Linked DNA regions of Homo sapiens: region 2 is linked to region 1. Evidence: fine-mapped expression QTL. A gene starts in region 1. The other region holds a variant in brackets. All regions are shown on one strand. Distances are from middle to middle.

What was found. PIP is the estimated chance that this variant, and not a neighbour inherited with it, causes the effect.
Region 2: its variant is fine-mapped to the expression of IQCJ-SCHIP1 in lung (TOPMed, PIP above 0.99).

What each region holds. Positions count from the first base shown.
Region 1 is chr3:159,067,702-159,070,642 of GRCh38, forward strand. It overlaps IQCJ-SCHIP1 (IQCJ-SCHIP1 readthrough), which reads left to right and starts at 1,618. Exons shown (of 10, transcript NM_001414413.1): 1 at 1,618-1,740. The coding sequence starts at 1,732. It overlaps IQCJ (IQ motif containing J), which reads left to right and starts at 1,618. Exons shown (of 4, transcript NM_001042706.3): 1 at 1,618-1,740. The coding sequence starts at 1,732.
Region 2 is chr3:159,868,073-159,870,942 of GRCh38, forward strand. All of the region lies in intron 5 of IQCJ-SCHIP1 (IQCJ-SCHIP1 readthrough), which reads left to right. The region is part of intron 3 of SCHIP1 (schwannomin interacting protein 1); the gene reads left to right. Among named protein-coding and RNA genes, the nearest start is that of IQCJ-SCHIP1-AS1, 100 kb to the left of the region's middle. The variant T/A (reference allele first, on the strand shown) is at 1,397.

The DNA.
Region 1 (2,941 bases):
AATTTTGTAAGTAATTCTGTTGTGTCCATCCCCTGCTGAGTCCCTTGTGGTACTATTTGACAATGGTAAGCCCCTTGAGGGAGTTCTCATCTTAAGGGTCATTGTGTTCTACACAGCATCTGATGTGTAATTCAGTGGATATTTGTTGAACAAATGGATGAAACAAATGGCAGTGGAGAGCTAAGAACAGAATCTAGGCAAACAGGCCTGAGCAGTGGAATGTGAGGGGGACTGGCGGTGCCTCGGTCAATACGTATCAATCGAGCGTGCTTAAAGGTGAGTCTGGCCTTCTGCAGCAGTCTGACCATTGACTCTTTATCAATAAACATAAATACTGTTCTGCCCTTGACCTCAAGAGTTAAAATAATAAATAGCTTAATTGGTCATCATTAATTCCACTTCAAATTTACTATAGGCATGTGTGGCCTTGAACAGAATGACTCCCATGCTCAGCCCAGGCATTTTATCCCCGAACCTCCCAAAGGAGTGTCCTTGGTAAAACAAATAAAATCAGCCTCCCACCTCCTCCCACCCATCAATAGCACGTTTGCTATTGAGTCCAGGCAAATGGCCATTTGCAAGGTTGGATGAGTAGTTAAGCCACACAGGCACAATGTAATATGACAACATTCTTCATGGTAATATTGTCCTCCTCCTCATTACATTTGAATATAGATTGCCACTGTGCAATGCCTTCGACCTCGCTCTCTATTTGTGAGGTTTAGGAGTTCTTCAGACAAGGTGATGTCCACGTGCACTCCTCAGAAATTATTAGCCTATTTGTAAACCTAAACAAAATAACAGCTATTGTCTCTAATAACTTAATTTGCCAAATCTCTTTTCTTCCTATGCTTAATTATGTATAAATTTATAGACTTAAGCCACCTGCCTGCTCAATGCTTGTATATAATCGTACCTCTTAGCTACCACTTAATGTTTCAGGGCTCTTCCTTTATATTCTCTTTGCTTCAAACTGTACATTTAAATATCAGTACTCAGCTCAGCTTCTGAGTATTAAACATTTTTTTTTCTCCACTTCCTTGAAAAGCTGTGAACAAGCCTTTTAGCATTTTATCTGGACCAAACAGTAGTGGTTTTACATGAGAAACGAGAACTCTGCAAGTAAATCTATGTGTTTATATGTCTAAAGTGCATTATAAAAAGAAGCAATAAATCTAGTTTTCTACATAAAAGGAATTAGATTTTCCAGTTTACCTCTGCACTGGGATTAATAAAATGCGCAACAAATAGCTGATGGAATGATCCATTTGAAGTTTGTAAAGGTATCTAGGGAAGCTGGCTGGAGTAGCCTTTTCATTTTTTCAAAAGCAGGATGCCTCTTAATTTTTTGATTCAGTCTTGTTTCTCAATGACTGTTTTAAAATGAGCTGAGAGGCTGTTACCTGCCTGTTTCTGCATGGCTGAGCAAATTCACCCGTAAATCCAAGTTTCTCTTCATTTCCATCACTATACGTCTCCAAATTACAGAGAATTCATTCCTGAGCTGGAGAGGTGCCAGAAGTTTCTCATCTAGCTGTCTGTGGGCTGCCTTTTTCTTTCCCCTCTTTGAGGCTTTCTGATGCCTAGAGTGAGCTCAACTCAAAGGTTTCCAGCCTCACACTCGCCTCACATTCCCCCACAGTCACATTGCGCTCTGTGATTCTGAGGAATACAGTGTGCCAGCATCCGATCCAGTCTCCTTTCACCTGCAGGTGTTCCAGAAACTTCAAAATGCGTCTGGTAATGTATTTGCTTTTCTAAACGTGCCACTTTGATGTGCATTATATGCAGCTGCTTATTATTTTTTAAAAATCTGTCTTCTGAATTAACATGTATGCAAAAAATGTCAAAAAGAGCTTATAGAACAGTGTGGGCTTAATTATTGGTCTAGGTGCGTGTGCATGTGTCCTTGTTAATGTAGGCATGTGTGCATAAATATGTATTATTTATGTATACATGTGTCTGTGCGGACAGATTTCACTAAAGGAATCTCATTGAAAGCAACACTTCCTATGAACATCCAGATTTTCTAGTCAGATCTGTAAATATCTTACACAACAACAGCAAGTAGAGGAAAAATACATTTTTCACACCCATGCAAATGGTATGTTTTAAACACTTATTTAAAAAGCCCTCCTTTCTTGTGTGTGTGTGTGTGTGTGTGTGTGTGTGTGTGTGTGTGTGTGCGTGTGTATGGGGAGGAGGTGTTGATTTTTGAAAATTGGGAGAGAAGAGTTATATTGCTGCTGCACGAGAATTTCTACCCCATGTTACCTGCCTTCTTAAAACTCAGTAAGCACTGAGGGGAAGAGATGTGGTTCTGCTTTGGAGAACCTCAGGGGGACGTTGATCCGCAGTGTTCAGCAGGAATTTTAGGTATTCTAAATACTAGTGCTTGAATAATAAGTAGATGGGGTAGATTTGCTATAGCCAAATCCTTCTATGTTTTCTGGCTTGTAGGAATCACATTCACACTGTACATTTAGGATCTGCATGTGTTTATTGAACTCTAGTAAAGCAGCGTGAGAGTGCAGGCTCATAAATCACATTATTTATTTGCTAGTGTTGGGTGCTAGATTCTAAGATTAAGAGATTACTTAGCAATTAATAATATATTCAGCATCCCTTGTCTCATTGGGTGAGATTTACATCCTTGGGACTTGCTCTTCTAGTTATAAAGATGAATTATTTAAGGTTCATACTTAATTGCTATTTCAAATTCTTAAGCTAGAAAGATACTTGCAACACTATATTTAAAAGACTTATTTTGAAAAATGTGTATGTATATTTCTAACTGGTGGTGAGCTAATTATGACTACAATGTGCTATATGCTTAAAAATAACTGATCTTGAGTATTGCTTACTTTTGTAATAGAAACTTGTTTTCTGGTCTTCAGATTATAATAATTCTTTCACTTTGCATTATGCTCTTTTTGAGATC
Region 2 (2,870 bases), 800 kb after region 1:
GGGTTATATATAACATACGTATATATTAGCTAATATTAATCTATATGTAACATACCTATATATAACCCATATATATGTATATGTACATAGGTATATATGGATGTATACATATATATATGTGTCTTTGTGTGTGTGTGTGTATATGTATACTCCAGATATATTTATATTATCCTTGTGCCACTCTCCAGAAGAAATAACTTTTTACTCCTTAACTGTTTCTTCTGGTATTTACCTACATATCTCTAAATAAAATGCTTATCTTCTTAGTTTTTATTTTAACCATCAGACTACCTGCTATAAAAAGATAGTGATTTAGCTCTTTTTTTACAGCCCTCCCAAAGACTGTCATCTCTTCTATTCTTCCTTTAGAGTAATTTCACAATTTAGAGTCAAATAGCTATTTAATGTTTACATTATTAAGATTATGCATTATTCATCGCTTCTCAGCCTTTTAGCTAAGATCAAGTGTAAATTATGCATTATTCCCACTGAACCACGTAGTAAACTATGGTTACTTGAGAAATTTTATTTTTTGTCCTGAAATTAGAATTGCCTCCTTTCTCCCCATGTTCTGCATTTGTATTCCAGTGTGTGAATATACCACAATTTATTTGGCCTCTCTCCTGATAATGGGCATTGGATTATTTCAAAGGTTTTGCTCTTGTAAACAATGCTACGTATAAACATTCTTGTATATGTCTTCTGCTATACATATGCAAGAGTTTCTCTTTGGGGCATACCTAGGAGTAGAATTACTAGGAAAATACATGATTGTTTACACTTAGAATATAATGTCAAACTGTTTTCCAACATGGTTGCAACAGATTATACTCCTACCAGCAATGTTTCAGAGATCCTGTGGATCCATAACGTTACTAACATTTGATATTGCCAATTCTTTTAAGTTTTTGTGAAGATTGAATAGGTATAAAATGATTTTTATTGTGTATATTAGCCGTATTTGTTTTCTCTTCTGTGAAATATCTGTTTGGGTCCTATGCCAAATTGCTGTTGGATTCTTTATGCTTTTCTCATCAACTTATCGAAGTTCTTCAGTCATGATACTAATCCTTAATACACTGTATGTATTGCATATATCATTTCCCAGGTTGTAACTTATTTTTCACTTTTTTAATATGTGTTTTATGACCAGAAGTTCTGAATTTTATAGGTTGATTTTATACTGAATTTTATCAAACTTTTCTAGTCAATGGCTTTCTGTATCTTGTGTAAGAAATTTTCTTCTCCCCCAAGATCCAATAGACATTCATTAGATTTCCTACCAAGAGTCGAAAGTGTTGAGTTTTTAAAAGTCTGCAATCAGTCAAAAGTTGATTTCTTGATATGGTATGGAGAAGTCAAATTTGATCGTTTTCCTTATATATGACCATTTTTT[T/A]ATCATATTTATTGGACAATCCCTCTTTTACTCACTGATCTTATAGACTACTCCCATATATACTGTATGTTAATGGAAATATATTCTATTTTATTATTGTTTCTATCTCAGCAGCAAAACTATAGTGTTAATTACAATAGCTTCAAAATAAGTCCTGATATCTGGACAGGAAAGTCCTTTTTGTTATTCTTTTTCTTCAGAAGTATGCTGCCTGTTACGGCTTTTTTTATTCCTCCACATAAACTTTAAATAATATAATCAAGTTCAACAAAATACTCTCTTGGAATTTTGACTGTAATTGCATTGATTCTATAGACCAATTTAGGAAGCATTACATTTTCTCATTGTCTTTCTATCCATGAATATGGTCTGTCTCCCCCTTATTTAGATCTTATTAGGTATTTCTTAATAAGGTTTAGACATATTACACATCTCTTGTTATATTTATTTCTTTCTTAATAAGGTTTAGACATATTACACATCTCTTGTTATATTTATTTCTAGATACTTGCTATTCTGATAAATTCTCTTCAGTAATGCTTTCTCATTTGCTGCTGGTGAACAGAAATGCAATTAACTTTGTATACTAGTATTATATTCAGCCACTTTGTTATTACTCCTATTACTTCTCTACTCTCCTATTATTTCTAATAAAGTTGTCTGTAGATTCCCTGGGATTTTTAAAGAATGATATCATCTACAAATAATGGCAGCTTTATTTATTCATTTTCAATTCTCATGCTTTTGGTTTCTTTGTCTTATTGGATTGGCTAGGTACCCTAATACAGTGAGGATTAGAAATAGTAGTAGTTGGAATCCTTAGCTAATTTCTCATATTAAATGAAATGTTTCTACTGTTTTCCCATTTCAGATGATGTTAATTTTATGTTTCCTTTAATGATTCTCTTTATGAGATGATGTTCCCTCCCAGGTATAACTTACAAAGAATTTTTATCATGAATGGGTATTTAACTGTATCACATGCTTTTTCTTCATCTGTTGAGTTGAAGAAAAAGTACAATTTCACTCTGTTAATCTATTATATGAATTAATGAATTACATTTATAGATTTTCAAAATATTAAACCATGCTAGCATACCCAGTCTAAACCTAAAGTGGTTAGGGAGTATTATATTTTTTCAGATACTGTTGGAGTATTATATTTTTTCAGATACTAATATTATAAATAAAATCTGAGTAAATAATTATAAATAAAATTCATATTTTATTTGTAACATTTTGTTTAGGATTGTTAGGTTTATATTCATGATTGACATGAATCTATTGTATTCTTTTCTTCTGACATTTTTGCTTGGTTTTAGTATCAGGGTTATGCTGGCTTAAAAATGGATTGGGAAGTATTCTCTTTCATATTGTCTAAGAAAAGTTTACATAATATTTTTATGATCTGTTTCTATAAAGCTTGGTAGGACTCATTTCTCTCTGGGCCTGGTGTTTACTTTGTGTATTTGCT